Linked DNA regions of Homo sapiens: region 2 is linked to region 1. Evidence: fine-mapped expression QTL. A gene starts in region 1. The other region holds a variant in brackets. All regions are shown on one strand. Distances are between the middles of the regions.

Region 1 (2,883 bases):
TGGTTCCCAGATGTTTATTTTTTTAAAAAGTCAAGATGTGGTGATAGCCAGGTATTTGTCTCTAAAGTGAGAATGATGTTATTCCACTTGGAGTTTATTGACACAGAACTTCCTTTTGTCTGAGAAATCTTCAGCACTGTGAATATGGCTTTAATTAAGAGATACACTCATCACTTGTTGATTTTGTTACAAGGGAAGAACTCCTCTAATGTATGTGGATTGCTTTGTGGACCACAGTAAAACATATAAAGGACCACCGGCAATGTATTGTTTTGTATCTACTGCATTCTTATATTCATTTCTGAAAACTACTGTTTAGAAAGTTCTGTAGGATTACTGAAGTACAAAAAGTATTTGGATTCACAATCCACTTTTTAAAGAGAGGCCACATTGTGGTTATTGACATTAAAAATGAATGTCCTAACCCATACTTGTGGGGCTAAATCTTTGAATATCATTTTAAAACATGAGGAAATGTCTTCTGAATTTAGGGAAGTCACACATAGATCCCAGTTCCTCTAATAACCTTTGGCAGTTTATTTGTTCATAGATTTGTGGCAAATTCTCTGGAATCATATGATCTAAAGTACAAATCATTGTCTCAAAATCTAAGGCATGATATGCACATGGGAATCTTTAAGTACTTGTCTGAGTCTATCTTCAAGTGATATCTGATAAGACCTAAATTACAGTAGTGTTGTGGGACGAAGAAAACAACCCACTCTACTTCAAAATCTTAACCACTTGACTCCACATCCATTGAACCATGTAATTCTTAGTTCTCCACTCAGCTTCTCTATCTGTTAAAAGAGATAAACAGATCTAAAACGCAGCTTCTGTAATTCAAGAATGAGTAATAAGGAGCTGTAAAGTGTGCACTCAGCTGACTTGGAGATTAATGGGAATAAAAAAAAGAGTCAGTAGATCTAAAAAGATGTGTGGAAAGGAAATTTCTCTGCACACAGGATCTGCCAATTTGTGAAAGTTCTCGACTGTTTATAAACACAAGGGCCGTAACTCTGCTAATGACAAAAGTGGAAAACTGTCCAAATAATGCTAAATGAATCACAGTTGTTCTCAATTATTTGGATATTTAATTCACTCCTCTGAGTTTCCAGTTTACACCAAGCCAACCCCCCCAACACCACGGGCCCACCCGGGGGGTCCTGATCCCTGCACACACCAGGTCATCTCTGTTGGGCCCCGGCGCTCTGGCCCGCGCCGGTCTTGGGCCCCAGGGTAGCGGCCACTGCGGGCGGAGCAGAGGGAAACACCAGAGTCTGTGACTCCAGACAGGACCCACTGTGTCCTCTTGAACTTTGCACAGCGCGTGACGGGGGCAGACGGTGCACCGTGGCCCGGCCTTTCGCGGGGGTCCTCGGGGAAGAGAGAGGAGCGCGGGTTTCCTCGGAGGCCTGAGCGGGACGCAGCCTGCAGCCCCTCCCCGCACGGGCTGCCCCCGGCCCGCCGCTCGCGCCGCTCTGCTGGGATCCGGCGCCTTCCCCGGCTGTCCTCGGCCTCCCGCGCGCTCCGCGGGAGGAGCCGCCAGCGGCCGTGACGCGTCAAGGAGGAAACGCCGGCGCCCGGCGGCCCTGCCGGGAAGGAGGAAGCGCAGTGCGTTCGGCTCCGCGCCCGCCGCGCCGGGAGCAGCACCGCGGGGCCAGGTAGGTGCGGGGCCGGCGGGAGGGTCCGCGCGCCCGGGACTCCGACGGCGGCCCGGGGCGGGAGGAGACGGGGCGGGGCGAGGGCTGCCCGGGCCTCGGCCGCTGCCTGTCCTCGGAAAAAGCCGTACCTCCGCCCAGCCCCCGGCTCCCGGAGAGTTTGTGGTCTTTGTTTCCACGAGGTGAATTCAGATCCTGCCTCGAGATTCCTAAACGCCCAAGGGGCGTCGGTGGCTGGACCTTGTTAACCCCCACGCAGCCGCCGAGCCTGGAGGAACTGGGAACGCCGAGCAGGGAGACCCTATCTGAGGTCGAAAGTGGGTGCAGGTCACCTGCGAGGGTCGGGGAGGGGGCAGCCGCCAGAGTGGGGTGGATGGAATCGTTTAACCTGTTGTCAGCGGATCTGTAGTAAAAGACCTTAATACGTTGCGTCTTTTAAGTTCTCTGTAATTTGAACCCTTACGTCTCTTCAAGTGAATCTGGCCCTATTAATTCTCACAGTTTTAGCTTTGGAATGTACCCACAAGAAGTGCTTTGAGATTTTTAGATTCTGTCATTTTTAGTCATCGTTACTTGGAAAGAGAAAAGAGAAAGGAATCATCTCTTGAAACTTAAAACGCTTTCATTGAGTTGTGCACAGTGACTTCTGAACCATGAGTAGAATTTCAGTCCTGCACCAGAGACTACTTAGTGTGCACTTGGGTGCAAAATAAATACAGAGCACTGTAATTTCTAAATCTTTTGTCAAAGTGAAAAATAGACTGTTGTGTATTTTGATTCTCTCCCTTCTCACCAGATTGAGACTTCACCCAGCCAATCTGGGAGGTGCCTTTTTTTATTTACCAAACACTTACATAGCCCTTACTATGCGCTGGGCTCTTTCTAAGTTCTTTATAAATATTAAATCAAATTCTTAACTTATCATATTATAGCGGTTCTAGCAATGAAGAGGCTATCCATACTTTAGTTCCCCAAATGTCATTGGAAGAGCTGTAAACATTAGAGGAAGTTTTAGGCATGTTTTAGCACCGGGTGTGCCTTCTGGTCCCCTTGGCTACCACTTCTGTAAGACAAGCCACCACCCCAGCATTTCCCTGGGGTAAGGGAGCCTGGAGCTCCTGGGAATGCGACCTGTTCAAAGCAGATGTTGGCCAGAACCTGAATGACTTGTGTAACATGGTCTCTTTCAACTGCCGTTGTGCCCATCGGCTAACTCTGGAGA
Region 2 (2,917 bases), 590 kb after region 1:
GAGGATCACTTGAGGCAAGGAGTCTGAGATCAGCCTGGGCAACAAAGACCCCATCTCTTAAAAAAAAAAAAAAAAAAAAAAAAAAATTTAAATCAGCTTGGGCATGGTGGTGTATGCCTACAGTCCTAGCTATGTGGGGCAGGGGGTTGAGGTGGGAGGGTCCCTTGAGCCCAAGAGTTAAAGGTTACAGTGAGCTATAACCACTAGACTCCACTACAATCCAGCCTGGGCACAAGAACAAGACCCTGTCCTCCCACCAAAAAAAAAAAATCACAACAGAATAATGTGTATGCTATAATGAAGTCACAAAATGTACGGCAGATGTTTGGGGACAGGAGGAAAAACACCTCAATGCACCAACCTTGTGATTACCCCAGGGAGATTATCAGACCAGAACTATAACTTCTTAAATATGTTTGTGCATTGATATTTAACTCATTTTTCTATTTATGACTATACAAGGCCCTATAAAATACACATGCTCAATTTAATGGGAAATTTTCCCTTTCACTATTTATACTATAAGGTATCAGATAAATTAGACAAATCCTACCCGTAATAGAAGACCCTTAAATTTAATTGGCTGAGCACAGTGGCTCATGCCTGTAATCCCAGCACTTGGGGAGGCCAAGGTGGGCGGATCACCTGAGGTCAGGACTTCCAGACCAGTCTGGCCAACGTGGTGAAACATCGTCTCTACTAAAAACACAAAAATTAGCCAGGCGTGCTGGTGGTGCGCGCCTATAACCACAGCTACTCGGACGGCTGAGGCAGGAGAATCACTTGAACCTGGGAGGCGGAGGTTGCAGTGAGCCAAAATCACACCACCACCCTCCAGCCTCAGCGACAGAGTGAGACTCCATCTCTTAAAAAAAAAAAAAAATAATAATTAATTAATATATTGGGGAATCTGGCTAATTGACTAAATCTGCCTGAAATTTGGAAAAAAGGTATTCAAATGTGTGCCAAGTACTACTACACTTTACATATACTAAACTTTACATAGACTATTACACTTTACATGCAACTAATGTATTTATGTTTGACAACAATCCTATGAGGTGTGTACTATTATATCTTCATTTTAAAGACTGGAAAATTGAGGAAGAGAGGTTGAACAACTTGTCCAAAGGCTGCATGGCTTGGACGTATGGCTAATCAGGTTTCAATATTAGGTAATCTAACTACAGATTCTGGTTTATTAACCGTTCTACCATATAGGTGTATCTGAGAAACTGAACAAACTGTGCTAAATTGGGGTATGATAAACAACTACTGGCCTATACATTTTTAACACTATCACTAACTGAGCATCTTTCACGTACCAGATACTGTATTAAACCCTTTAAAAAGCGACTTTGACAAATCACCTTGCTATACAATTTCTACAATTCATTCGCACAATCCATACAACTTATTCATACAATACATACAAATTTACTCATTGCCTACTGTGTGCCAGGCATCTGATGTTCAGTATTTCAGTTTAGTTTTCTGTGAACCAAACCCCTTTCCATTTTATTACTGGTAGAACTAGAAGGCAGATAGTATAAAAATATTATCTGCAGCTATTTAAAATACCACTTTAATAAAGGTTCACAATGATATTTAAGATCTGTATATCAGTTACTAAAATTGCACGGCTCACCAACAGATACAATCAAAAATAATCTTTATCACTTGAAAATATATGTGTGGGCTGGGCGCAGTGGCTCACACCTATAATCCCAGCACCT[T/C]GGGAAGCCGAGGCACATCGATCACTTGAGGTCAGGAATTTGAGACCAGCCTGGCCAACATGGTGAAACCCCATGAAATACAAATATTAGCCGGGCATGGCGGTGCATGCCTGTAGTCCCAGCTACTTGGGAGGCTGAGGCACAGGAATCGCTTGAACCCAGGAAGCGGAAGCTGCAGTGAGCTGAGATTGCGCCACTGCGCTCCAGCCTGGGTGACAGAATGAGACTCTGTGTCAAAAATAAATAAAATAAAATAAATGTATGGATAAGGAGGAAATGCTGTGTTGACTGACCTAAATCATCATAAAATAATTTAAGTATTCTTCATTTAAAAAAATTATCATTATTTAAGAGGCTGAGATACTACTACAAACCAGTAAGGCAGGAAAAAAGGCAAGGCAGGGGAAGAAGAGGAGCTGGCAGTTTTTGTTATAAGGTGAATTCCCATTTGTAAAATAATTACAGAATAGGATATTCTAGTTAAGTAAATTATACGCTAACTAGGAATATCAGAGGAAATGAAACATTTTAAAGAGCACTGTGTTTTGATACCAAATATCACTAAATAACTGTGAGCATGAGAAACAACTCTAACTTCACTAACTACTAGATAATAAAGGTTCCTTATATTCTAAAACATGGGTGAACAGAAGCCTACCATAAGTTTTTGTGCAGCCCACGAGTGGAAGAACAGTTTTTACAGCTGAACATCTGCAATCAACTTGATAGGGAAACTAAGGATCAGAATAAATAATGGCCAGTTCTAAGGTCAGATAACTGATAGGCGGTGATCCAGAAACTTGTTTCTCTAGTTGTTTTTGTTTGTTTTTGTGAGATAAAGCTTGCTCTTGTTGCTCGGGTTCAAGCGATTCTCCTGCCTCATCCTCCTGAGTAGCTGGGATTACAGGCATGCGCCACCACACCTAGTTAATTTTGTATTTTTAGTAGAGACGGGGTTTCTCCATGTTGGTCAGGCTGGTCTTGAACTCCTGACCTTAGGTGATCAGCCCGCCTCAGCCTCCCAAAGTGCTGGGATTACAGGTGTGAGCCACCGCGCCCGGCCTTGTTTTTCTAGTCTTAAACTAGTGTATTACCCAATACATTGTGCTATATTTAAGCAAACTTGTAATAACTGGTGCAAATGAAGTGAAAAATATCATTCTACAATTATCAGGATTACA

The links. PIP is the estimated chance that this variant, and not a neighbour inherited with it, causes the effect. A credible set is the group of variants that fine-mapping cannot tell apart.
Region 2: its variant is the best candidate, but not a certain one, in a credible set for the expression of SGK3 in whole blood (TOPMed, PIP 0.73).

The regions. Positions count from the first base shown.
Region 1 is chr8:66,711,170-66,714,052 of GRCh38, forward strand. It overlaps SGK3 (serum/glucocorticoid regulated kinase family member 3), which reads left to right and starts at 1,612. Exons shown (of 17, transcript NM_001033578.3): 1 at 1,612-1,664. The region is part of intron 3 of C8orf44-SGK3 (C8orf44-SGK3 readthrough); the gene reads left to right. RefSeq lists a silencer at 1,321-1,790.
Region 2 is chr8:67,302,848-67,305,764 of GRCh38, forward strand. The region is part of intron 1 of ARFGEF1 (ARF guanine nucleotide exchange factor 1); the gene reads right to left. Among named protein-coding and RNA genes, the nearest start is that of ARFGEF1, 39 kb to the right of the region's middle. The variant T/C (reference allele first, on the strand shown) is at 1,737.